Linked DNA regions of Homo sapiens. The protein of the gene in region 4 interacts with the protein of the main gene of each other region in a pairwise test. Each region holds a gene or a part of one and is shown on either strand. Other genes may lie near its edges. The genes, in order: EFHC1, C11orf54, RGR and KLF11.

What was found.
Region 1: the proteins of KLF11 (region 4) and EFHC1 interact in binary tests that used the Homo sapiens proteins (3 or more experiments, as listed by UniProt).
Region 2: the proteins of KLF11 (region 4) and C11orf54 interact in binary tests that used the Homo sapiens proteins (3 or more experiments, as listed by UniProt).
Region 3: the proteins of KLF11 (region 4) and RGR interact in binary tests that used the Homo sapiens proteins (3 or more experiments, as listed by UniProt).

What each region holds. Positions count from the first base shown.
Region 1 is NC_000006.12:52,415,897-52,423,358, forward strand, and holds the start of EFHC1 (EF-hand domain-containing protein 1), read left to right. Parts: upstream 1-4,445; 5' UTR 4,446-4,514; coding exon 4,515-4,577; exon of another isoform or gene 4,578-5,085; intron 5,086-5,111; exon of another isoform or gene 5,112-5,172; intron 5,173-7,462. UniProt on the Homo sapiens protein: Microtubule inner protein (MIP) part of the dynein-decorated doublet microtubules (DMTs) in cilia axoneme, which is required for motile cilia beating.
Region 2 is NC_000011.10:93,751,647-93,758,675, reverse strand, and holds part of C11orf54 (ester hydrolase C11orf54), read right to left. Parts: intron 4,995-7,029; coding exon 4,921-4,994; exon of another isoform or gene 4,917-4,920; intron 4,741-4,916; coding exon 4,639-4,740; intron 3,467-4,638; coding exon 3,290-3,466; intron 1,361-3,289; coding exon 1,211-1,360; intron 1-1,210. UniProt on the Homo sapiens protein: Exhibits ester hydrolase activity on the substrate p-nitrophenyl acetate, in vitro. Regulates DNA damage and repair by regulating HIF1A degradation via chaperone-mediated autophagy (CMA).
Region 3 is NC_000010.11:84,255,030-84,260,466, forward strand, and holds the end of RGR (RPE-retinal G protein-coupled receptor), read left to right. Parts: intron 1-2,863; coding exon 2,864-2,977; intron 2,978-3,478; coding exon 3,479-3,610; 3' UTR 3,611-4,931; downstream 4,932-5,437. UniProt on the Homo sapiens protein: Receptor for all-trans- and 11-cis-retinal. Binds preferentially to the former and may catalyze the isomerization of the chromophore by a retinochrome-like mechanism.
Region 4 is NC_000002.12:10,046,525-10,053,553, reverse strand, and holds part of KLF11 (Krueppel-like factor 11), read right to left. Parts: intron 5,905-7,029; coding exon 4,959-5,904; intron 1,328-4,958; coding exon 1,047-1,327; 3' UTR 1-1,046. UniProt on the Homo sapiens protein: Transcription factor. Activates the epsilon- and gamma-globin gene promoters and, to a much lower degree, the beta-globin gene and represses promoters containing SP1-like binding inhibiting cell growth.

The DNA.
Region 1 (7,462 bases), on a different chromosome or scaffold from region 4:
CTGTGATCATGATATACTCTCACTATGAATGTATATGTATGTATATATCTTGAAAAAACTTTCACTGAATTATTCTTACAAACAAAATGGAATGCATCTGGATAGTTTCTATTCTATTCTTTTTTAAAAATAATTCTCGTTGTGGTCACAACCTATTAAGTTGATTTGAAGAACTGCTAAAGGAAATCTGCAGCAGTTTGAAAAATACTTTCCCACGTGACCGCTGAGTCATTCATTCATTAACTGTAGTAGGTCAGTAATTTTCCAACTATTTAATGGACATCTATGTAGTGCTAGGCACTGTGATGAGAGTTAGGAAAATGGCAATGAAAAAATGAAGACCATCTTCTTATGACGCTTATATCCTGTGAAGTATGTTCCATCAGCTTTGACAAGGAAAGAGAATTCCAACGGAATCAGCTAAAGCTATTGAATAGGTTTGACTTAAGGGAGGAAAAAGCAGCAGAAATACAGGTTTTTCCAAACCCCAGGCAGGAGCCCACATCAAGACTAAAATAGTCTAGACCCAAATGATGTAATTTTTGTGTCAAATGAAGATCTCCTGTGGATCCTAAATCTAATCACTGGATGTTTCTCCTTTTCCCATACTTTGCAAAGATCGAAGTGGATGACTGGGCCCTCTTTTTAGATAAAATATTTCAGAGGCCATGGAGTGATGGAAAGGAATGCTAGAGAGCACTCTGACTGAGGGACACCCCCTGGCCATATTCACGTGCTCACCACACCCCCAAGTACCTGCAAAACCTGCAGGTATGTAATTGGTTGTTTTCTTTTCCAGAAATTTTGCTGTACCATTTTTACCCAGCAGAGGGAAGCAGAACACCAAATCACTGCAGAAGTAATCCAGGACACATGCACACACAGCCCTTTGGTATTTTTTGTCCTGTGAATTTAGGTATTATAGAATGAGAATGTCACAGTTTTGAAAACAAATTCTGGGTAAAGTCAGCTCTGGGCAAAATGCTGAAAGAGGAGAGGTTTATTTTAGCTGACTGCTTATGGCCTGTCCCATCAGGATTGCCTGGAAGACATTACCCAGCCCACAAGGCCCTCTTTCAGGCTTGGCTCCTGGCAGTCTGACCTTTCAATTTTTTTCCATTCCCCAAGTTTTGGAACACCTGCTAAAATCATGCAATATTTCTGTGGTCTTCTGAGTCAGGCTTTATGCAATGGCCTTTCAATCATGGCATTTCCTACTTTAGCTGCCAGGAATGGTCAGTTTCCTGCCCTCTTTTATATATTCCACTAAGTGGGAAATGGTGGGTACAAACTGAAGTGCAATGCATGCTAAGTGGTCATGTAGACTGGAGTGCAGTGGCATGATCTCTGTTCACTGCAACCTCTGCCTCCCCGGTTCAAGCGATTCTCCTGCCTCAGCCTCCTGAGTAGCTGGGACTACAGGCATGTGCCACCACGTCCAGCTAATTTTTGTATTTTTAGTAGAGATGGGGTTTCGCCAGGCTGGTCTCAAAATCTTGGCCTCAAGTGATTTGCCCACCTTGGCCTCCCAAAGTGCTGGGGTTACGGGCATGAGCCACTGCACCCGACTGGGATACAAACTCTTAATCACAGCAGACCTTCTGAGGATCCAGGTACCTTTCTGAAGCCCTGCCTTTCCTCCCGCCCCACTTCTTTACAGACTTGTCCCTGTGCCTTTTAACACTAATGCAGTACGTCTGACTTCCCCTCCTCAGAGATGATAGCATTTTTAGGAGGCCATAGACCAACAGAAGTTGTCTTCATGCATTTCTGGGGTCCGAAAGTAGTTAAAACACACCCCTTAGCCATTTAACTGGCGTGCTTTTCTGGAAAGAAAGGCATGAGCAGAGGGCACTCCTCAAATAGAAACAGATGCGATAATGGACAATAGGCTTAGGCATGACTCAGCCTTTCCAGCTCCACACGCTCCTTCCCTACCCAACCCAGGAATATAGATCCAAGTGCAACCATGCACTTAGTCAAGAAGAGCTCTTCAAAGTGTGTCCTAATGCCATGAAATTTACTTTTAATAAGAGAGTGGGTAGGGAGGGATCATGGAACTTCTAACAGTTTAAGGTTATCATGAAGAGTCAGCAAAAATTACAGTAACCAGTGATTCTGGGTAATCAGCGTCAATGAGGTGGAGAGAAGTGGGAGAGGTGCCTTATCTTTGAAAGGTTAAACTTGCCATCTTTTTTTTTTTTTTTCCTTTTTTTGAGACGGAGTTTTGCTCTTGTTGCCCAGGCTGGAGTGCAATGGCGCGATCTCGGCTCACTGCAACCTCTACCTCCCGGGTTCAAGCGATTCTCGTGCCTCAGCCTCCCAAGTAGCTGGGATTACAGGCATGCGCCCCCATGCCCAGCTAATTTTGTATTTTTAGTAGAGGTGGGGTTTCACTATGTTGTCCAGGCTGGTCTCAAACTCTGACCTCAGGCGATCCACCCGCCTCGGCCTCCCAAAGTGCTGGGATTACAGGCGTGAGCCACCGCACCCAGCAAACTTGCCATCTTGACATATTCCTCCAGTGACTGGCATCCATCCTCAGTTGGTGTCTAAGGTATAATACAACGGACAGGTACTTTAAAAGTTTTCAGTAACTTCCACAATGCTAACCAATGTTTGAGGAATATGATTACATTTATTTTTTTAAAAAATAAGCAAGTTTTGTAAAAAGCACCAAAGGCAAAAAAACTTCATTGAAGTTTTTAAAAAATGTATTAAACTGCTGCATTAAGGTAATGTACTTACAGAAAAAGAAAAAGAGGTTTAAAAAAGGACAAGAACAGGAAACAGATGTAGTAAGGGGAGAAGAGTTAGAAAGGAAACTCTCTGGGCAGGGTATGGTAAGCAGGCATCAATAACTGCCTCAGGTGCCACTTAATGCATTCATGTCCTGGGCCTCCTGAGCGTCACACAAATTAGTGAAACCCAACAGGGGGATTTGCTCTGACAAGCAGCAATAAAAGTAAAGCTGCTGTCTGTATTGGCAGTAAACTACCTGTGACACTGAGATATGCCTTCTGTGTCTGGCTTATTACTCTATCATGTTCCTAAACTGGCTTGTCACAAACGCCTGTTACAAAAATCAGATTCCTGGCCTCCATGTCAGACCTAATGAATCCAAATCTCTCGGCACGTGGGTTTTGATTACTTTTTATTTTTAAGCTCCTCAGCAATGATGGATAGCTTTCTCCCCCCCCCCCCAAAAAAAATGTTTCAGGAATAGGATTATGTTTCTTTTAAGAAAAAATAATTTAAGCAAGTTTTGTAAAAAGCATCAAAGGCTATACCTATGATGCTGACAATATTTCACCTCACTTATCTGCTTCTTTCCCAAGACTTAGTCTTTCTCTTTGAAGGAGCTGTGTTCCTCCTAGTGGTTCTGATCTTTTTCATTGCAGCTGCAGGTACAAACGAGGGATTGAGGTGACCACCCTTCAACCTGCAGCTCTTCAGTCAACAAAAATCAAGTACCTATCAGAGTGCACCCTGCCCTGCAGCACATATTCAAGGCTTTCCCTACAAAAACAAAGGTGTTTAACCGAAGGGATTGATGGTAGAATAAAGAGAGCTGGGCGCGGTGGCTCATGCCTGTAATCCCAGCACTTTGGGAGGCGAGGTGGGCGGATCGCTTGACCCCAGGAATTCGAGACCAGCTTGGGCAACATAGTGGGACACTATCTCTACGGAAGGAGGGAAGTAGGGAAGGAAGGAAGGAAGCAAGGAGGGAAGGAGGGACGGAGGGAAGGAGGGAAGGAAGGAAGGAAAAAGAAAAGAAAGGAAAGAAAGAAAGGAAAGAAAGAAAGAGAAAGATTGATTTTAAAAAAGAGTTAAAAGGGGAAAAATACAATGTGGCAGTGGGAGAATTAAGGATGAGATGATTGCATTAGTTCATTGACCATCCCTGAGCAACAGAAACACAATCATGGGTAATCCTCGGCCCCTGCCTACAAGAAGCATGGGTCTAGTTTAGTAGCACTGCCAACTGGACCGACCATTTACACTTCTGTGTGAAATGGGGCAGAGGGGGGAGAAAAGAGTGCCTGAGCTCACAGCGTTGGCGGGGCGCAGTGAGGTCCGCCAGGACTAGGTGGAAGGAGAGAAGGAACGTCCCTCTCTGCAACTCATCTAAGGGCCTGCTCGGACCCCGGATCTCACAGCGAGAACTACCGCCTCGCTACACCCGCCTTTCCCCGCGCCACCCAACAGCTCCCACGTCTCATCCTCCGGGAGCGGGGCGGGGCGAAGCGGAAGAGGAGGGGCCGACACAACCACGCCCACTAGCCGCGCTCCAAGGCCGCGGCCCACTTACCGCGAGAACGCGGAGTCCTGCGGATGGCGCACGCGCAAACCTCCTGTGATGCCTGCGCCTCCTGGCCCCGCCTTCCGCTCGTGGGAGTTCCGGATGTTTAGCGTTACCATGGATCCTGGAGGTGCCCGCGAACACTGCTTGTCGCCTGGGCAACCGGAGAGGACGAAGCAGGACCTAGGTGGCGGCGGTGGTACCGGCTGCAATGGTGTCCAATCCCGTGCATGGCTTGCCCTTTCTTCCGGGCACGTCCTTTAAGGACTCTACGGTGAGCAGTTATCTGCCAGACTCCCACCTGTCCCCACCTTCCAGCAGCCCAGGAGGTTTCCCCGCTCAGTGCACCTCCATTCCCCTCCACTCAAGTCTGTCTTCTCTCCAAACACGTCTTCTGTCCTGACCCTGTTCTTTATTCTGGGCCGAACTTCTGCCGTTCTTCCCTAGCCATCCTCATCCCCTCTCTCCGATCCTTTGCCCTCCGCCTCATCCCTCTCTAGTTTTTTCCCACTCCATCTTGGCAGTGTGTTGGCGCCTTCATTCTCATCCCGTTAGCCGCGTTCTTTCTTACGGCCCTGCTCCTCCAAGCCCCTGCCTCTTGTCCCTTTAGATCACTGTTTCCCCCACCCTACTCCCAACCTATCTCTGGGCCCTCTCCCTAGCTCGTTCTCTCACATCATAACCTGTCTCCGTCCATCGCCGCCCTTAAAACCCCCCGCCACTATGCACCTTCAACCTCATTCCCACAGGTCCGTCATTCCCGCCCCACCTCTTCCTCTTCTGAATCCTGTACCCGGTAGTATCTCCCACTCCCAGCTCCATTTCCTGTTTTGTATGTATATCGATTCCGCTCCTCTTCTTTCCGCCAGGTCTTTTTCCTTTCTTCTTTATGCTTGCATCCAACCCCATTCTTTTTTCTCCATCTTCTACATTTTCCACAATTTAGTCCCATCCTCTCCCCATTCCTTTCTTTCTCCGTTGCGGGTTTTCCCCAAAACTTGCTCACCTTCCTCCCAAAGCATCTTTCCCTGCTTTGTAAGAGATATTCCTTTCCAGTTCCCTCAAGAATTGATTAGTTGCTGTTTATTCTTCCCCGGCCCTGTTCTTTTTATTCTAACGTTTTTGTAAAAAGATTCCTGTTTAGATTTTGTTTTGCTCCTTCCCCAACCTTGTGTTTTTATTTGCATTTTCTAGACAAAATTTTTTAAAAAGTAGCAGCAGCTTGGATTCTTTTTTTTTTTTAAACTCTTGCCACAGTTTAGCTCTTAAAATTATTTGGTTTGTTTTAATTCTGACAGGGCTACTGAAATGTATGTGCTGAAAAATCAATAATGAGATTCAGTAGACTGATCATCATAGATGAGCTAACAGTAGTTTATGTTTATATAGTTTAATACTTTAAACTCTTGCCTTCCTCTCCAGCTTCACAAAGTTAAAATATTTTGTCAATTTATTTTCTTTGGAAGAATCAATTTAGAATGAAATCGAAAGTTTGGTGAGAGAATTTGTATTCTGAATCTCTGTAATTATCCCTGCATTAAGACACAACATCATAGATTTTTAGTTTCAGTGGACTTTTCAGTTTTATGTAATTTAGAAAATGTTGTAGGCACTTGCCTGCCCTATACAGGATGAGCTTAAGCTTTTGGTGTTGGTGAGTATAGACAGGGCTGAGTTGATACAGGGAATTACAGAGGTGTGGATGGAAGTGCAAAGCTCTAAAAACATATTGCTGTATTACAAGTAAGAAGAACTGTGCATTGGACATATTTCAGATTTTAAATACACTGGCCAAGTGTCAACCAATTTGCCCTATTTGAAATTTGAAAAGCATCGTCAGTATATCTTCAGCAGTGAAGGACTGAATATGTATTAATGTAATTCTAAAGACATGCAGATAAGAAGTTAAAAAATTTTTAAAGGGGAGTGGGAAAACGATTTTAAAAAAAGACACACAGAAGGTGAACCATAATGGACAAGAGGGGTGGAAAGGGCCGAGGTTGCCTTGCCTGGGGTGTCTGTGAGTTATGGCTGAATGATGGTAGAGACATTTGTCTAAAACAAAGAAATAAACTGAAGTCACTGATGTTGCTTCTGTCTTTGGTGGTGGAAGAAGAGCTTGAAGTTCCATAAATTACCCAATGAGGATGTCAACTCAGCGCATTTTGTTCTATGTCATGTTTACTATATACCTGGAGCAGTCCCTGTCAACTGACTTGTGACTCTGAATACATGACCTTTAAAAACAAATGTCATACATTTGTTTTTATGGGTTATATACAGTTTATAACCCTTTTAGCAAAAGAAGTTTATTCTGTTGTACCTTTCATGTTAGTACAGATCTTGAAAGATGGTAGGCTGGGCTCTAAAGCAATTAGGATGTAGAAAGTTTTTTTCATAAAAATATTTTTTATGATTAATCTTAAATTGTATCTATGTATATATTTGAATATTATAGATAAGTAATTGTGAAAGTATCCTCACAACAGAAAAAGGAAACCATTAACATAACCTCTAATTTGCCTTTCTACTCTTTTTTATTTAATCTTTTAAATAAAAATGTGTTCATTGTAAAAAATCAACATAATTTAGAAATGTATAATACAGAGGACCAAACCAGTCTCTTCATGCACATATTTCCATGCTTATAATTGCAGTACACATATAATTTTATATGTTGCTTTTTCAGGCTTATTAAATCATAAATATTTTCACCAGGTTGCCACGTGATCTCTAAAATCAATATTTTAATGACAGCACCATAATCCATTGAGTGAGTTTTCGATCATTTACTCATGTCTTCATATGACTGTCTTTTAGATTGTCTTCAACATTTACCATTGTAATGGGCAGCTTCAGGCATATAGTTCTTTCTCATAATTCTGAATCATATTCGTAAATAAATGGTCGGGGTAGAATTATTGAGTTCAAGACTTTAAATATATACCATCCAGTTGCTTTCCAAAGAGTTGTAAGAATGTATCACTGTCATTGTGACAAGAGGGACAGGTAAAAATAAATTCATTCCATGTAAAAATAAAATTCACAGAACCGTATCTTCTAGGTTCTACAGTTTTTACGGCCCCAGATATCAGATGAAAAACATGAGAAGACTAGTGAAAAACTTAAGAGTATAGATGAGATACTCTTTTAATCTCT
Region 2 (7,029 bases), on a different chromosome or scaffold from region 4:
GGCAGGGGGCTGGTGTGTCAGCAGTGCCCTGAGCGTGTGCACACCTGGCTGGGCTGCGACAGCGACCGGGCTCTGCCTGACTTTGCTCCTGGATCGGAGCAGGCGCCGACAGCAGGGAGAAGCCAGGCAGTGGGAGCAGGCATTTCCAAGCCTGTAAGAGCAGTGGGGGCCTTCCCAGACCCCCAAGAATGCAGGAATGCCTGGGTCCGCAGCCACGGTTTGGGCAGCTGCAGCTGTGTGGAGAAGGCAGGGCTCCTGCCTGCTCCGTGGAGCGGGAGACCCAGGTCTGCAGCCGCGGGTTTGAGCTGCTGCAGCTGCGCCTGGGCAGTTGGGGCTCTCGCCTGTTCCCACTGGGAGAGCACAGGGATGCCAGGGACTACAGCCATGGCTTGGGCGATTGCAGCGGCACCAACGGAGCTCCAGCGCCAACTCGGAAGGGGCAGGACTCCCACCTGTCTTCAGCTCCCACCCGCTCCATAGAGTGTGTAGCCTCAGCCGTGCCTCCCTGCTGCAGCCGCTCCAGAGAGCCTGCCGCTGCCATCATCACTATGTTGACCAGGCTGGTTTTGAATTCCTGGCCTCCAGCGGTCCTCCCACCTGGGCCTCCCAAAGTGCTGGGATTACAGGCATGAGTCACTCTGCAGGCCTTGAATTTATCTTGATCTTAAAAACAAACATATCCAAAATAAAGTTCTAATATACTAACATGGACAAAGATATTATCTTACAATCTGATTTATAAAATTATCATTTAAATTTTAAAGTAATACAATCATAATAAAAAGGATTTGTTTAAAGTGTCTTCAAATGTAGAATTCCCAACACATACTTTACAATCCTAAGATCTGGCCCGGTGCAGCGTCTCACGTCTGTAATCTCAGCACTTTGGGAGGCCGAGACAGGTGGATCAGCTGAGGTCAGGAGTTCGACACCAGTCTGGCCAATGTGGCAAAACCTTGTCTCTACTAAAACTACAAAATGAGCCGGTTGTGATGCTGCATGCCTATAATCCCAGCTACTCAGTAGGCTGAGGCAGGAGAACCCCTTGAATCCGGGAGATGGAGGTTGCAGTGAGCCAAGATTGTGCCACTACACTCCAGCATGGGCAACAGAGCAAGGATCCGTTTAAAAAAAAAAAAAAATCCTAAGATCTTAAGTAAGTGCACACACACAAACTCCTTCATGCATGTATGCACACATGGGCTCTTACCATAATGTGAGACTTCACTTTTCCCTTCTGAATTATGAAAGTACCTCCCATTCCTATAGGCTTATTTCCATAATGTTTTTCCAGGGTCTCTCTCATACAAGTCACAAAGTTAAGTGGTCCAGTTCTTCTTTTGGCTTTCACCTCAATTACCTATAGAGGACATAAAGATGCATACCATTGACTATGCTGCAAAATAACTACTGAAATAAAACATTATATAATTTAATTCTATCAAGCAAATATTCTGTTCTTTGCTTAGAGCCCCCAGATCTGAGTTGAGATGTTGCAATCCCGTGAATTTTGATCAGTCATATATATATGTATGCACACACACACACACATACTTATCAGTTACATGTAATTTACTAGTAAGTCTTAAGCATGCTTTCTTGAACTGAGAAACTGAGAAAGACAAGTTTCTCAGTGCAGAGAGTCTAGAGACTCTTAACATACGTGTCGAGGCAGTCAAAGATTGAGAATTACCTTTGGTAATTCTTTGGTTAAAGGAATTAACCTTTGGTAAGTGGGGATGAGGAGAAAATGATTACATTTTCTCACTTCCCTTAAAATTCTGTATTATCTCCACAACTTGGACGTTAAGTATTTTCACTTCTCAATCTCTTATCTCAAAGTAGCTGAAGAGGCTATCTCTACTTCCAAAACTGGAGAGTCTTCACAAAAGCTAACACTGAAATCATATTTTTGTGTACTAATAGGAAGTAAATATCAAGTAAGGCATTAGTTTTCCTTACTTTGTTCTTGCTGTAAGTTTTTGCTACCACCATTTCTATCTAGAGCAATGTGTGATTCATCAGAAAGAAGCAAATAACCTATTTACTACCTGTAAGTAGGCATTATTTATTTTAGCTGTATGGTTCATGTAGATGACAAACTCACTCCCCAAATTAATATTCTATTACCTTTTAGTTCTCAGAAAAAGGTCTTGCTTACTAAGTAGTCTTTTTTTTTTTTTTTTAAGACAGGTCTTGCTGTCACCTAGGTAGGAGTGCAGTGGTGTGATCATAGCTCGTTGCGGCCTCAAACACCTGGGCACAAGGGATCCTCCTGCATCAGCCTCCTGAGTAGCTAGGACTATAGGCATGTACCACCACACCTGGCTAATTAAAAAAAAAAATTTTTTTTTTTTTTTTTTGACAGGGTCTTGCCATGTTGCCCAGGCTGGTCTGAAACTGCCAGCCTTAAGTGATCCTCCAGCTTTGGCCTCTCAAAGGACTGGAATTATAGGCATAAGCCATTGTGCCAGCCATACTATTCTTTTTTTTTTTTTTTTTTTTTTTGGAGACAGAGTCTTGCTTTGTTGCCCAGGCTGGAGTGCAATGGTGCAATCTTGGCTCACTGCAACCTCTGTCTCCCAGGTTCAAGCAATTCTCCTGCCTCAGCCTCCCAAGTAGCTGGGACTACAGGCATGTGCCACCTTCCCTGTCTAATTTTTGTATTTTTAGTAGAGACGAGGTTTCGCTATGTTGGCCAGACTGGTCTCAAATGCTTGACCTCAGGTGATCTACCCACCTTGGCCTCCCAAAATGCTTGGGAATACAGGCGTGAGCCACCGCGTCTGGCCTCCAGCCATATTATTCTTAACCTTAAAGATGACTTTTGCTCTGCCTGTCATACTCTCTGAACCTTTCATTACTGGGTTATTTAAAGAGCTTTGACTTAGGAAGCTCTAATTTTCTTTTTTTTTTTTTTTTTGAGACAGAGTCTCACTCAGTGGCCCAGACTGGAGGGTAGTAGCATGATCTTGGCTCACTGCAACCTCTGCCTTCCGAGTCTGAGCGATTCTCTCACCTCAGCCCCCCCGAGTAGCTGGGATTACAGGCACACACCACCACACCCTGCTAATTTTTGTATTTTTTGGTACAGATGGGGTTTCACCATGTTGACCAGGCTGGTCTTGAACTCCTGACCTCAAGTTGACCTCAAGTTATCCACCCAGCTTGGCCTCCCAAAGTGGGAAACTAATTTTCTTAGCAAAACCATATTTATGGCAGTAAAAGTTCACATTTTTAGCTTTCTGAGAACATTTAGGGAATATTGTATTTTTATGGACACAATCACCTTGCCAGGTTGGCCTTCACTGGCAAAAAGATTAGCCAGTAATGCACACTGAAAATCATGACATTTCTCACTGTATTTCTCCAGTAGGCACCCTCCATCTGCAGGGTTCACATGGGCAAAGTAACTTCCATTTACAGGAGGCTTGTGTTCACTTTCTGTCTGAATAACTGGCATAAACTGAAAAGAAAGTGAGGCAATTAGTCAATCTTTGTATCTCTGCAAAGAGAATATCTTGAATAATGTTACAAAACATTTAATCCTTTTAAGACATTTTAGTTCAAGTCCTAATAAGAGAACATAAAATACATAATATTTAATTTTAGACATAAAAAACTTGGAAAACATTTATAGGCCGGGCGCTGTGGCTCATGCCTGTAATCCCAGCACTTTGGGAGGCCAAGGGGGGCGGATCACGAGGTCAAGAGAAGAGATCAAGACCATCCTGGCCAACATGGTGAAAACCTGTCTCTACTAAAAATACAAAAATTAGCTGGGCGTGGTGGCACACACCTGTAGTCCCAGCTACTCAAGAGGCTGAGGCAAGAGAATTGCTTGAACCTGGGAGGTGGAGGTTGCAGTGAGCCAAGATCGCGCCACTGCACTCCAGCATGGCGACAGAGCGAGACTCCATCTCAAAAAAAAAAAAAAAAAAAAAAAAGATATTTATTGGATTTCTTACAGTGTATCTATAACTTGCGTTAAATATCTTATTTTAAATTTTTAACTTTTTTTCCTAACTTGAACACTAGGCAAATTGTACTAATGTTTCTGCAAAGAACTTGTATGACTACTATTCATATCTGAAGAGGTTATGAGAGAATGAGCAGACTGAAGTCTTGTATTCATGAGATTCAAAGAAACAGTAATATTTTCATATGGTAATAATATATACTAGTAATAACTATTAACTTTCATAAATAACCATCATACTATTGTGATAGTTTCCTACTATTTGGTGTGGAAGAAGGAGTTGACTAGATCACTAATATTCCATTCATCTTCTAATCCAAAGCTGCCTGCATACCCAAAGCAAAGATTTATAGATAAGCTCGGAATCCTGTAAGAATATAAATATTTTATAATCCAGAACCTTCAACAGAATACCATAGAACCCTGCATTTATCTAAGGCTGAAGCTATGACCTAAGAAAATCTAAAACTACAAGTTAGTACTCCATTACAGTTAGTCCAGTTGGAGTGTGTGCTATAGCAGAAATCTACATCAAGTAGTATCAAACCTGCAGAGAGATTTACAATTCACTCAGAAAGTAGGATTTTTGGCACTAAAAGCAAAAAGACAAACCAAATGTCAAACCAATAAAGTAAAATAATTTTCTTATATATGCTGACCTCAGAATTGAACCCGAGAGTCTGAAATGGACCTGCTCCTGCTCCAAGAATAAAGGCTCCAGGCAGCTTGATTTCTTTTGCAATTTTATTCAGATCATAAACCTATAGAAGAGGAAAAAATATTATTTAAGTCACAACTTGTACAAAGTCCCTGGTTTACCTTTTATTACTGATCCATTAGCACTTCCTTGCCAACTGATCAACAGGTCTTCTAATAATAAACACAGTAATCAACCCAACTTCTACAATCTTCATGTGAATATGCAGAGTAAAAGTACTTACTTTTTTTTGGTTTACAAGAGGCAATAAGTAAGGCACACCTCCAACTTCTGCAATTCTAGTTTTCCCACAGATGCCTAAGAAAAAACCAAAAAACAAAAACACAAGCCACCTTAAAAACAGGCAAACATCTAATTTAATAATAAAATGCCAACAGTATATAACTTCTCCATTATCATAAAGTTTTACAAATAACAGGGATTGGAAGACATAGTGGCTAGAACCCCTGTCCTATTTTAAGTACCTGTGTCTCTAATAATCATCATAACCAAGCATGGCTTATAAAGTTGGTGGCATAAAGGCAATACAAGGCAAGGGCAAGGGTTAGAACTGGGGCCAAAGTTTGGATTGGGTAAGGTTTCTAGAATGTCTTTGACGCCTTATTTCTTTAAAAAAAATCTATTTTGGGGTGGTTTTCCTTTTTTTGGCTAAAATTGTTTCTTGTTTTTTAATTTAAAATATTTTGCTCTGGTACAATGTAAATTCTCAGATGGTGGCTCACGCCTGCAATCCCAGCACTTTGGGAGGCTGAGGCGGGTGGATCACCTGAAGTCAGGAGTTCGAGACCAGCCTGGCCAACATGGTGAATCTCTACTAAAAATAGAAAAATTAGCTGGGCATGGTGGCGGGAGCCTATAATCCCAGCTACCAAGGAGGCTGGGGCAGGAGGATTGCTTGAACCCGGCGGGGGCAGAGGTTGCAGTGAGCCAAGATTGTGCTACTGTATTCCAGCCTGGGCAACAGAGCAAGACTCTGTCTCAAAAAACAAAACATCACGAGGTCAGGAGATCGCGACCATCCTGGCTAACACGGTGAAACCCCATCTTTACCAAAAATACAAAAAATTAGCCGGGCGTACTACTCAGGAGGCTGGGTGTACTACTCAGGAGGCTGAGGCAGGAGAATGGTGTGAACCTGGGAGGCAGAGCTGGCAGTGAGCCGAGATCGCGCCACTGCACTCCAGCCTGGGTGACAGAGCGAGACTCCGTCTCAAAAAAAAAAAAAAAAAAAACCCAGAGAGATCTAGGTGAGATGTACAAATTTCAAAGTTATATTCAGGTAGTAATTAAAACCATAAGAGTGGATTTAAAAAATACCCAGATAGATTACTAGAAATAAGAAGAGGCTAAGGAAAGAATTCTGGAAAAGATCAATATTTAAGAGACTATTAGAAAGAAAAAGGAACCAGGAAAATATGGAAGAAAAGAGGAAGGAAAGGCACAAAGGAAGAACAGGTGAAACAAGGATAGAGAAGATAGAACCTAGGGGAGAATGTCAGGCAGCAATGGCCAAGCAGTATGAAATACGTGGAGAGGTTAAATAGTACTAGTAAACATTTTAAGGTCACTGGTGATCTTAGCAAGACCAGTTCATGTAGAAAATGTCTAACACACCACTGCATCCAGCTAATTTTTGTACTTTTAGTAGAGATTGGGTTTCACCATGTTGGCCAGTTTGGTCTTAAACTCCTATGTTTATGAAAGATCATACATACACATATTAGATGCATATCTGGCTTCTAGTATTGCAATTTAAAGACTCACAAATTACTGACCAGAAAACACTTCTTCCAAGCATAACTCTGCATGACAAAATTAAGACTAACCATTTTGGCTGGGCATGATGGCTCACACCTGTAATCCCAGCACTTTGGGAGGCCGAGGCGGGCACATCACTTGAGACTGGGAGTTCGAGATCAGCCTGGCCAACATGATGAAACCCCGTCTCTACTAAAAATACAAAAATTAGCCAGGTGTCGTGGTGCACACCTGTAATCCTAGCTACTTGGGAGGGTGAGGTATGAGAATCGCCTGAACCCGGGAGGCAGAGATTGCAGTGAGCCAAGATTGTGCCACTGTACTCCACACTCCAGTCTGGGCGACAGAGCGAGATTCCATCTCACACACACACACACAAAAAAAAAAAAAAAAAAAAAAAGATTAACCATTTTTCCTTCTTTCTTGTACTCTTCTGTCTCCTGACCTTTATTTAATTTTAGTTAATTACTTAATTAGCAGGGGAAATACATTACACTCATATTTTTAAAAAAATCAAGGCTGGGCGTGGTGGCTCACGCCTGTAATCTCAGCACTTTGGAAGGCCGAGGTGGGC
Region 3 (5,437 bases), on a different chromosome or scaffold from region 4:
TGCCTCTTCACCTTGCTTCTGCTTCTACTCATTCCGCCCTTTAACCTCCAATTCCCTCTGCTATTCTCCTGCCTCAAGAGCAGCAGTAATTTCTCGTTTCCTCTCAGGGACACCAGGGAATATGAACAATGTGACAGACAGCAACCAGGGGTTTTCTGCGTTTTCAGTGATCAAGAGAAAATCCAGCTTGTGCACAGCATAGGATGTTAGAACTGGAAACCACCCTCCCTTTGCTCAGATCGCCAAGGCCTGGGGAGCAAGGATCAGGACTGCTCAGATTCACCCAGACCCCGTAACTCTGGGGACCAGGGCTCCCTACTGGACACATCCGTGCTGTTCCACTTAACTCTTGCCAAGGATGTGAGGTTTGGCACAAAGTTACAGGCTTTTTAAATGCTACTTTTAAACCGCTTTGAGATGTTTAATTTAATCACAGTCACAGGGTGGTGCCCAAAAGATAAAAATCAACCTATAAGCACATTTGTCCAAGAAATACAATACTTCAAAATAAGCCCTCCTGGCCATTTTTTAGTTTCTGAATTACTATTCCCTTGCCACGGTTTTATTTTAACTTGGTCACCTGGATGACCTCTAGCAAAGGAGTCGTAACAAGCAACAAAGATTAGAACAAATTCAGATCTTAATATTATTTCTTTGCAACCACTCTATGAGGAAAGAGGTTTTCTTTCTTTTTTTTTTTTTTTTTTTTTTTTAGGCCGAGTTTCACTCTTGTTGCCCAGGCTGGAGCGCAATGGTGTGATGTCGGCTCACCGCAACCTCCGCCTCTGGGGTTCAAGCGATTCTCCTGCCTCAGCTTCCCGAGTACCTGGGATTATAGGCATGTGCCACCACACCCACCTAATTTTGTATTTTTGGTAGAGACGGGGTTTCTCCATGTTGGCCAGGCTGGTTTCGAACTCCTGATCTCAGGTGATCCGCCCGCCTCCGCCTCCTAAATTGTTGGGATATAGGCGTGAGCTGCCGTGTCCAGCCTTTTTTTTTTTTCTTTGTTTCTTTTTTTTTTCCTTTCTTTTTTTTTTTTTTTTTTTTTTTTTTTTTGAGACAAGGTCTTACTCTGTTGCCCAGGCTGGAGTGCAGTGGCAATCTCGGCTCACTGCAACCTCCGCCTCTCGGGTTCAAGCGATTCTCCTGCCTCAGCGTCCCTAGTAGCTGGGATTATAGGCACCTGCCACCACGCCTGGCTAATTTTTGTATCTTTTGTATCTGTTGGCCAGGCTGGTCTTGAACTCCTGACCTCAGGTGATCCACCCACTTCAGCCTCCCAAAGTGCTGGGATTACAGGTTTGAGCTATCGTGCCGGCCAGAAGGAGGTTTTCTTATCCCTGTGTCGCGGACTAAAAAATTGAGGCTGAGATGGGGGTTAACTAAGCAACTCACCAAAAACCACACACCTGGATTCAAACCTAGGTCTGGGACTCCACCACCCATGTGGTCAATCACAGTGCATGAAAGAAACTCTTTTTTTTAAGTCACTTCATCTGCCACTTTATTTATTTATTGTAAATTGGAAAAGGACTGTGCAAATCTATTTTAGCTGGAGCCCCGATGCTCCCCCGAGGTCAGAAGGAGAGAAAGGGCTTTCCTGGGACCAGAATCCAGTCCCCTGGCTCCCAGCTGGCTGCTGGCATAGGCGCCGCTTCTAGGCTGTCCTCCGCGATGCCGGTCCCAAGCCCTGTCTGGAGGTGCAAAGTTCACATTTACTGGAGGCTCAGGCAGCCGGGAGACAAGGCTGCCACCATGATCTCCTCATTTTTCTGCGTTGACTTTAAACCATTGTCTCTGGTGGGCATCGCCAAGGTCACACGCAGGGGTCCAGGGACCTCATCCCAAGCTGAGCGGCTTCCCGAGACCGCGTAGCCTCCCCAGGGGATTCCACGTCTTAGGGCCTCGGCTCCCGGGAGGGCCCCGAGGTGCTGAGCTCCGTTGTTCGTGGGTTTTTTTTTCCCCAAATAAGGGACAGTTAAGAGGAAAAAAAAAGTCTCTTGGTCAACATATTTTAATAATCCAAGATGGAAGAAAATATGCCCTCTTCCAGCTTAATCACCCTCTTTGTTAAAGAAAGTCAGGTCAGGGAGAAAACAGGCAAGAACTTGAGCGTCAGAATTGCACGTCCGCGTGTTTGTGCGGGGCTGGAACTTGGCAGCTCCCGCTGAAATTAAAGCGCGAGTCTTGCGCCCCCTCATGGCCCCAGGCGGCACCCCAGCATCTCCCGCTCTCTGGACAAGCCCCTCCCCCGCTGATTGTATTTCACATTGGGAGCCCAGACAGGGTGGTCTCGCCGGGTGGCTGTAGCTGTGGATGACGAGTTGGTTCTAGGACTGAGGCCTGAGGGCAGCTCAGCCTGGGGCCCCTTGAGCACGCAGTCACAGAGCCCAGGATTCCTCTTAAAGAGCACAGACGCAGGCCAGGCACAGTGGCTCATGCTTGTAATCCCAGCACGTTGGGAGGCCGAGGCAGGAGAATCCCTTGAACCCAGGAGTTCGAGACCAGCCTAGGAAACATAGTGAGACCCCTTCTGTATTTGACAAACAAAGAGTACAGACCCAGGAGGAAGCGCTCATTATCCACCCAGTCTCGGCCTCCAGCCACGTTGGGTATTGTCAGGCCATTTTACAGACACAGCAGCTGAGGTCAGGCAAGTTTAAATAAAAGGCTTAAGGTCACACAGTCTTAAACAACAGAGAGGCCCATCTGGTCCCAAGTTCCCCTGCAGACTCAGCCCCCTCCTGAAGCCTGGTCCATGCTGCCCCGCCCTGCTGAGTGCTGACCTGGTTTTCTTGGCCACATAGGGCTGTGGGCCACCTGGAGCAAGCTGACATCTCCTGTGACAATTTCTCCCCAGGTAAACACCACTCTGCCAGCAAGGACGCTGCTGCTCGGCTGGGGCCCCTATGCCATCCTGTATCTATACGCAGTCATCGCAGACGTGACTTCCATCTCCCCCAAACTGCAGATGGTACAGATACTTCTAGTACCTAAAACTAGACCCCTCTCCATCTTTGTTCTCTGTCTCATCTCATCTCACTTTCTGGATTTATGACCTCTGTGTCAGTCTCTTCCTTTCTGTGTTTCTTCCTTTGGATACTCACAAGGCATAGAGCATTAGTTTGCCCCCCTAATCCCCCACCTCGTCTCTGAGTCATACCAGGCTGCTGCTTGACATTGCCCAAACCTCATGTGAGATGACAGGGACAGCCAGCCAGATGGTGTAGATAAAGACTCTGTGACCAGGGGTTGAGATTAGTCCCCAGGCTGGGAGCAGGTGGGTCTGGACAAGAGTATGGCTCCATGGACTCCGTGAGCCATGCATCTCCACCAACTAGTCAGGGAAGCCTCCAAGGCTGCAGAACTAAATGATTGGCAGTTGTAGGTGGAGGGTGACCGGGGTCACCAGGTGAGACCAGAGAGAGGATCAGTGGCTTTGAAGCTTCTTTTCTGGACTTTTCTGCCACAACAGGTGCCCGCCCTCATTGCCAAAATGGTGCCCACGATCAATGCCATCAACTATGCCCTGGGCAATGAGATGGTCTGCAGGGGAATCTGGCAGTGCCTCTCACCGCAGAAGAGGGAGAAGGACCGAACCAAGTGAGCCTGCCACCCTGGAGTGAGCCCCAGGCCAGGAGGCTGTTCCAGGAGTCCTGCCCAGCAGCCTCAGTGGCCAAGCCCAGACACTCACCCACCTTCCCCAGTGGCCCCGTGGATCCTGGTCCTAGGCTGGACACAGGATTCAGAAAGACACCAGGCTGCACAGAAAGAGCCAGATGGACCTGAGTGTCGGTCACAGCCCCCTACACTCAAGGCTGAGAGGCCTCAGGAAAGTCATTCCTTTTTAAAAATAATAATAAATGTAAGGGGGTACAGTGCAGTTTTGTTACATGGATAGATTGCCTAGTGGTGAAGTCTGGGCTTTTAGTGTAACCATCACCCTAATAATATACGTTGTACCCATTAAGTTATTTCTCATCCCTCACCCCCTCCCACCTTGTCACCCTTCTGAGTCTCCAATGTCTATTATTCCACACTCCATGTCCACGTGTACACATTATTTAGCTCCCACTTACAAGTGAGAACATGTGGTATTTGACTTTCTGTTTTTGAGTTATTTCACTTAAAATAATGACCTCCAGTTTCATCCATGTTGCTGCAAAAGACATGATCTCGTTCTTTTTTATGGCAGTGTAGTATTCCATTCCATATACATATATAAACGTTATATATATGTAACGTTTTCTTTATCCAATCATCTGTTGATGGATAGATTCCATATCTTTGCTACTGTAAACAGCTGTGATAAGCATACAAGTGCAGGTTTCTTTTTGATATACTGATTTCTTTTCCTTTGGGTAGATACCAGTAGTAGGACTGCTGGATCAAATGGTAGCTCTATTTTTAAGACAGTATGGAGAAATCACCATACTGTTTTCCATAGGGGTTGTACTAATTTACAGTCCCACCAACAGTGTATAGGTGTTCCCTTTTCTCTGCATCCTTACCAATATCTGTAATTTTTTGACTTTTTAATAATAGCCATTCTCACTTGTGTGAGATAAGGTCTCATTGTGGTTTTAATTTCCATTTCTCTGATGACTTTTGATGTTAAGCATTTTTTCATATGCTTCTTAGCCACGTGTATGTATTCTTTTTGAAAAAATGTTTATTCATGTCTTTTGCCCACTTTTTAATGGCATTATTTGGATTTTTTTTGTTGAGTTATTTGAGTTTCTTATATATTCTGGATAATAGTCTGGATAATATATTCTGGATAATATATAATAGTCTTATATATTCTGGATATATTCTGGATACATGGTTTGCAAATATTTTCTCCGGTTCTGCACGTTGTTCATTCTGTTGATGGTTTATTTTGCTGTGCAGAAACTTTTTTAGTTTAATTAAGTCCCATTTGTCTATTTTTGGTTTTGTTGCTTGTGCTTTTGAGGTTTCTGTCATGAATTCTTTGCCTAGACCAATGCCCAGAAGAGTTTTTCCTAGATTTTCTTCCAAGATTTTTATAGTGTCCATTCTTACACTTAAGTCTTTAATCCATCTTGAGTTGATTTTTTTTTTTTTAAGACGGAGTCCTGCTCTGTCACCCAGGCTGAAGTACAGTAGCACCATCATAGCTCACTGCAACCTTTGCCTCCCAGGTTCAAGCAGTTCTCATGCCTCAGCCTCCTAAGTAGCTGGGATTACAGGCATGCGCTACTATGTCTGGCTAATTTTTTGGGGTTTAGTAGAGACAGGGTTTCACCATGTTGAACAGGCTGTCCTCAAATTCCTGACCTCAGGTGATCCACCCACCTTGGCCCCCAAAGTGCTGGGATTACAGGCATGAGCCACCGTGTCTATCCTTGAGTTGATTTTTATATATGGTAAGAGATATGGGTCCAGTTTCATTCTTCTGCATATGGCAATT
Region 4 (7,029 bases):
GCACTGCCTGCCTTCACATGCATCTCGCCCCAGCTAAGCTGTGCTCTGGTGGAGTTTCATCCAACCAATACAGACATTTCCTTTTTTTCTGAGAAGTTACTCTACCCACAATATAGTACGGATAAGGCCACAGCAAAAGGAGTCAGAACTGACAATTGACAAAGCAGCTGGATTTGAGTGTTTCTTTTTTGGTGTTTTAGGTACAAACAAGAAACTGAATGGCTTGCTTTCAGCAGAGCCATGGCCAAGACTATTACAGACTAGATCCTGCAGCAAGTACTGGTCCCTGGGATCTGCCCAGTGGCTCATGTTACTCTCTGGGGTACATCCTTCATGACACACCATGGACACAGCTCACTAGTTCCAGTCAACCAAAATTTTAGTTCTTTGGTGACAGGAATGATTGCCTAGAATTTCCTTGAAAACGTTATGAAGAAGCTGACGGCAAAATTTATTTTTCCCTTTTAAGAGGTCCTTACTCAACCAGGTCCGATTCCAAAAAGATCTAAAAGGCCAGATAACTTGTGGTTTTTGTAGTGGAATAACATGTCCAGTTTACTAAAAGAAGGGCCATTAGGAAAAACTTTGTTATTAAACACTGAAAAGAAGGCTGCAAAATGATCTAGCTAGAAATTGGTGATTTGAGCACCAACAATATAAATATTTTTCTAAAAACCAGTATAAAAATTAGTACCCTGTCTTATTTCTACAAAACATCAATAGAAAAGGTTGTAAAAATCCAGATTTTGTAAACTTTATTGCCGAAATATTTGTTTGAATGCTGGTGATTCAGATTATCAAATTTTCTACCATTTCTTTAAAAAAAAAACCAAAACAAAAAAACTTCTGAAACTACAAAAGATACTGAACAGGGTCCCAAGTGGAAAAGAAAAGTTAACATACTTTCATCAAAACCAGCTCCCCGATCTTCCCCTAGGCCGCCAAGACCGTTTTTTTTGGGTGAGGCAGTGGGAGAGGAATCCATCAGTTCCATTCCTGGAAAGAGGCTTTTTAAAAATCCCATGAGTGATGTCCTAATGGACCTTTCAGGCAGAGGCTGGCATGCTCACCAGTGGGCTCCCCGGGCTCTCTGCAGAGGCGATTCTGTTCAGCTTGCCAACCTCTGCCTGCCAGCCTGGGATCTTCTTGGTCGTCATGTGGCGCCGGGCATGCTTCGTCAGGTGGTCACTGCGCATGAAACGTCGGTCACACACCGGGCACACAAACTTCTTCTCCCCTGTGTGAGTTCTGCGGTGGCGTGACAGCTCATCCGAACGAGCAAACTTTTTATCACAGCCATCCCAGCTGCAGTTGAAAGGCTTCTCCCCTGTGAGGTGAGAAAATACATATTAAAGAGAAAGGAAACGCTAAGCACCTTATTCAAGGGGTTAATTCATGTCATTTTAAAATCGTGTTCATCAAACTCAGAAGAAAGTGGTATCTTATTACTCTGGAATTGGATGATTTGGGTCAAGAAATCCTCCAAAAGGCATTTATTCCTCCCACACTTAAGATGCAGCTATGTTAGCACCCAAAGATTTCAAGCTAATCTTTCAAAATATATTTAAAAATAAATCAGGCGAAGTACAAGTACAGCGGCTCAAACCTATAATCGCAGCACTTTGGGAGGCTGGAGACGATCAGTTGAGCACAGGAGTTCCAGACTAGCCTGGGCAACAAAGTAAAACCCAATCTTTACCAAAAAACAAAAATAAATTAATTAAAAATGTAGCATCCAGCCAGGCGCAGTGGCTCACGCCTGTAATCCAAGCACTTTGGGAGGCCGAGGCGGGCGGATCACAAAGTCAGAAGACCGAGACCATCCTGGCTAACACGGTGAAACCCCATCTCTACTAAAAATACAAAAAACTAGCCGGGTGTGGTGGCGGGCACCTGTAGTCCCAGCTACTTGGGAGGCTAAGGCAGGAGAATGGTGTGAACCCGGGAGGCAGAGCTTGCAGTGAGCCGAGATTGCACCACTGCACTCCAGCCTGGGCGACACAGGAGACTCCGTCTCAAAAAATTAAAAATAAAAAATGTAGCATCCAGCTGGGCACGGTGGCTCACGCCTGTAATCCCAGCATTTTGGGAGGCCGAGGCGGGCAGACCACCTGAGGTCAGAAGTTCGAGACCAGCCTGACCAACATGGCGAAACTGTCTCTACTAAAAATACAAAAATTAGCTGGGTGTGGTGGTGGGTGCCTGTAATCTCAACTATTCCGGAGACTGAGGCAGGACAATCGCTTGAACCTGGGAGGCGGAGGGTGCAATGAGCGGAGATCGCGCCATTGCATTCCAGCCTGGGTGAGAGTGAGACTGTCCAAAAAAGAAAAAAAAAGTAGCACCGGCCGGGCATGGTGGCTCACACCTGTAATCCCAGCACTTTGGGAGGCTGAGACAGACGGATCATGAGGTCAGGAGATGGAGACCATCCTGACTAACATGGTGAAACCCCGTATCTACTAAAAATACCAAAAAAATTAGCCAGGCATGGTAGCTGGCACCTGTAATCCCAGCTACTCGGGAGGCTGAGGCAGGAGAGGAGAATGGCGTGAACCCGGGAGGCAGAGCTTGCAGTGAGCCGAGATCGCGCCACTGCACTCCAGCCTGGGCGACAGAGCAAGATTCCATCTCAAAAAAAAAAAAAAAAAAAAAAAAAAAGGTAGCATCTATTCACTCTACCTTACTCCAATTTAAATATTTTTCAGGTTGGCAGAAATATATATAAAAAGCAATCTTATCCAAGGTAAACTTGCCCAGTTTCTACTTCTCATGAAAATTCCAAGTTTACAAAATGGCACAAGGGGATTCTTCAGAACTCTTACAGTTATTTATTTTTATTTTTTGAGACGGAGTCTCACTCTGTCACCAGGCTGGAGTGCAGTGGCGTAATCTCGGCTCACTGCAACCTCCGCCTCCCAGGCTCAAGCGATTCTCCTGCCTCAGCCTCCCAAGTAGCTGGGACTACAGGAGCGTGCCACCAAGCCCAACTATTTTTGTATTTTTAGTAGAGACGGGGTTTCACCATGTTGGCCAGGATGGTCTCAATTTCTTGACCTCGTGATCTGCCTGCCTTGGCCTCGGAAAGTGCTGGGAATACAGGTATGAGCCACAGTGCCTGGCCAATTTTTTTTTTTTTTTTTTTTGAGATAAGAGTCTCGCTCTGTCGCCCAGGTTGGAGTGTAATGGCGCAATCTCCATTCACTGCAACCTCCATCTCCCAGGTTCAAGTGATTCTCCTGCCTCAGCCTCCTGAGCAGCTAGGATTATAGGCATGCGCCAGAAGGCCCAGCTAATTTTTGTATTTTTAGTAGAAACGGGGTTTCACCATGTTGGCCAGGCTGGTCTCAAACTCCTGACCTTGTGATCTGCCCACCTTGGCCTCCCAAAGTGCTGGGATGACAGGCGTGAGCCCCTGTACAAGGCCTGTTATTGAATTGGAAGTACTTTAGGAAACATGGAAGCAACTTGTTTCAATCACTGCAGGTCATTCTGTCAGTACTTCTACCAAGGTAAACCAAATAAACGGTAAAACTTCATTCAGTCACCTCCAACATTTGGAAGCTGTGCTCTGGTGTAATGCAAAGTTCCCCTGGAGAGTCCCGGTGAAATGCAGAGCTCACCAAGTCAACAAGCCCATTAAAAGAGGCAGGCAGGTCAATTCCCCTCAGAAACACCCGTTCCCTGACACAGCCCCACGTCCATCTGCCATGCAAACAACCAACCCTCATTTACTGACTAGTGTCAGGCCCTTTTATCAAGCACCAGGAATATATCCAGGTGAGATATACAACTAACTAAAAAACAAAGGGAGACTATAGTAAGACCTACAATAAACCACTAGGGTCAAAGAAGGAAGATAAAGAAACAATCTAATAACTAATCCTAGGAAGGCCCTCAGAGGGTTTCAGTAAGTAGAGATGGGCAGAGGGCCAAGAGGGAAGGGTGGAAATATGGAACCAGACATAGAATGTTGGGGAGACTGTTTCTGAATGGGCAGAGGTGAGTACCTCATGGGCCAAGTTTGGCTTTATCCTCAAAGCAAGCAGCCACTCAGTAGAATGGAGTAGTAGAGTTCCTCTTATAATGTCTGAACACCAGACTGCACTTTATTCTACACGTGGAGGCTACCACGATCAGAGCAACAGAACACAAACTCACAGAACACCTGAGAAATGGTGCCCTCACCTACTGAAGCGATTGTCTATCCAGCAACACTCAGACCACTGCTGCGCAGCAGGGCAGCCACAGGTCCCATGGAGCTATTTAAACTTCAAATACTAAAAAATGTAAAATTCAGTTCCTCAGGCACACTAGCCACACACTTCAAGTGTGAGCAGCCAGTGGCTACCCTAATGGACAGACAACAAACATTTCCACCATTGCAAAAAATTATATTGGACAGAGCTGGTTAGACAACAGAGAGATCATTAGGTCAGCATAGTTTCTTGTGTGACTTACTTTAAATTAAAAACTACTCTCAGAGGTAAGAAAACTATACTCTTTTAAAAAATATTTTAGAATTTGAACTTTTCTATAGTTTGGCCAGACCTTTTCTCACATAAACATAAGTCACACTGGTAAGATACATTTACTAAATGTGAATGAATGCATGTTTTCTTTAAAAAAAAAAAAAAAAAAAAAAGGATGAAACGTCTACTGCAATGTGAACAGAAGGGGGCACTGTAAGTCACTCTAAAAGCTACCAAAAGACACAATCACAGAACTATACTACATTTTATCTTCCAGGGCGAGCGCTCTGTAGGCAAAATCCTGATGGCTGTGCAAACAATCCCACCCTTACAAGGTTGTGCGGGCTTTTCAGAACCAAAGAAAAAGCCACACTTCCACCTTCGCCAGGGGTTCTCATGATCCCCTCCCAGCCAAAGGCGGCTCAAGGTGTGCTTCCTAACCACAGGGTCTGGTGTGCCCAATGCCCCACCTGCCCCAGCGCTTACCTGTGTGAGTGCGAAGATGGGCCTTAAGGTGGGAACTTTTGAAGTAGGTCTTCCGGCAACCTGGGAAGCTGCATACATAGTTCCTCCTTCGGGAAAAGTCTACCTGAGGGACACAGTTTTGGCTAGAGGTGATGAACACTGGAGCAGGGGCAAGGGGCAACAACTTGGTATTCCCGGCAGCCATGACATTGGCTGCACAGGGGGCAGGCGGAGGGAGGGCTCCCTGGGGCAGGACCAACATCACAGCTCCCTGAGGCACAGCAGGTCCCACGAACACAGGTTGAGGCGCTGGAGCAGCCTGAGCTAGGATGGGTCTCACAGTCCCCACAGACAACTGGGGAGGGGGCTTCAAAAAAGCTGGTAACATGCTACTTTGTCCAGTCACAGGGATCATCTGGCAAAGGACAGGGGGAGCAGGGACAGAGACAGAAATCAGAGGGGTGGTTTTCCTGGGCAGGTCATTTTCATAATTCTTTGGTGAGCAAGTCTGAACTGCACCAGGCCACCCTGCCTGCTGGCCTTTGTCAGTGAGCAGCAGGCCACCAGACTTGTGCAAGCAGGGCTGACAGGACACCAAGTTAGTGCTGAGTAAACTGTCCGTGAGGTGTGTGTCCTGCAAAGTTTCAAAGTGTCCCAGAAGCTGCTCTTCTCCTTCTCTGCTGTCAGAAAGCCGGCAATCTGGAGTCTGGATGGTGGGAAAGCAGGCAGCAGGGCTCTCCCCAGTGTGTCGGATCACGCTAGTCCCCTTGGCCCTGCAGGGAGAGCTGGGCACTGGCTCCAAACCCAGCAAGCCCCTCTCCGCGCCCCCGCTCAGAGCTCTGGCCACTACGGCAGAGGACTGGAGAACATCCGTGGCTGTACATGCTTTGGAATCTGTTACTTGGGGAGAAACAGGTGTCCTTGTCGATGGCTCCACGAGATCAGGGCTCTGAGGAGGAGTTATGCACTAAAAAAAAAAGTACCATGTTAAAAGGTTGCTTTAAATTTTAAAAGGGATTTAATTCATCACAATGCTCCCAATACCTTTACACAGAATCATCTAGACACTCAGTTAACCCTGTTTTCAACATCCCAGTGGGTTTCAAGGCTGCATGAGGCACTCTGCTTTCTCAGCTTATTCCCAACGTGTTTACCTCTCCCAAACCTACACAAGAGCCCAGTGCAGGGAACTCTGAGAGGAGCTCCTGGCCGCCAGGCCCACCACTTCTGCAACCCTCCCGACAACCCACAGGCCCTTCCTATCCCTCTCCAAATCTGCTTTCTACACTCTTCTTTCAGAGCAAGCTTCCAGCCCAGGACAATCACAATTTCCACTTCTGTTAGCAACCTACAGTTCTCAGCTTCTCCAAGCTGAGATGCAATTTTTCCAAGTACTTTCACAGATGTAGCAAATTAAAAAAACAAAAAGCAAGAGTGACTTACTGCACCCAACTCACAGAACTCACATTAAGGAGTCGGCTGCCACGGGAGGGCAGAGGTGCCACCCAACGAAGGCAATCTGATGTCAAAGTACATGCTTTCTCCAGCTGCTACCGATATATTCTGACACTAGGCTGGAGAACCTAAGCTCCACCCCGAGATTCCCCTGGGGAAGTAAATTTCACTTTCTCACATTAATCTGTAGGTTTCATCCCACGGACATTAACCACGTAGCTAGCAAGGTATGATCCATCCATAGAAAGAGCACATTTTTCAGAAATGAAAGAAAAGTTTCTTTTTTTGTTCTTTTATTTTTTTTTGAGATGGGGTCTCGCGCTCTGTTGCCCAGGCTGGAGTGCAGTGGCACGATCTCGGCTCACTGCAACCTCCGCCTCCCGGGTTCAAGCGATTCTCCTACCTCAGACTCCTGAATAGCTGGGACTACAGGCGCCCGCCACCACACCCGGATAAATTTTGTACTTTTAGTAGAGATGAGGTTTCACCATGTTGGTCTGGCTGGTCTCGAACTCCTGACCTTGTGATCTGCCTGCCTGGCCCTCCCAAAGTGCTGGGATTACAGGCTTGAGCCACCATGCCTGGCCAAAGGAAGAGTTTCTACTCCTTCAGACCCACACAGAGAGGATACGCAACT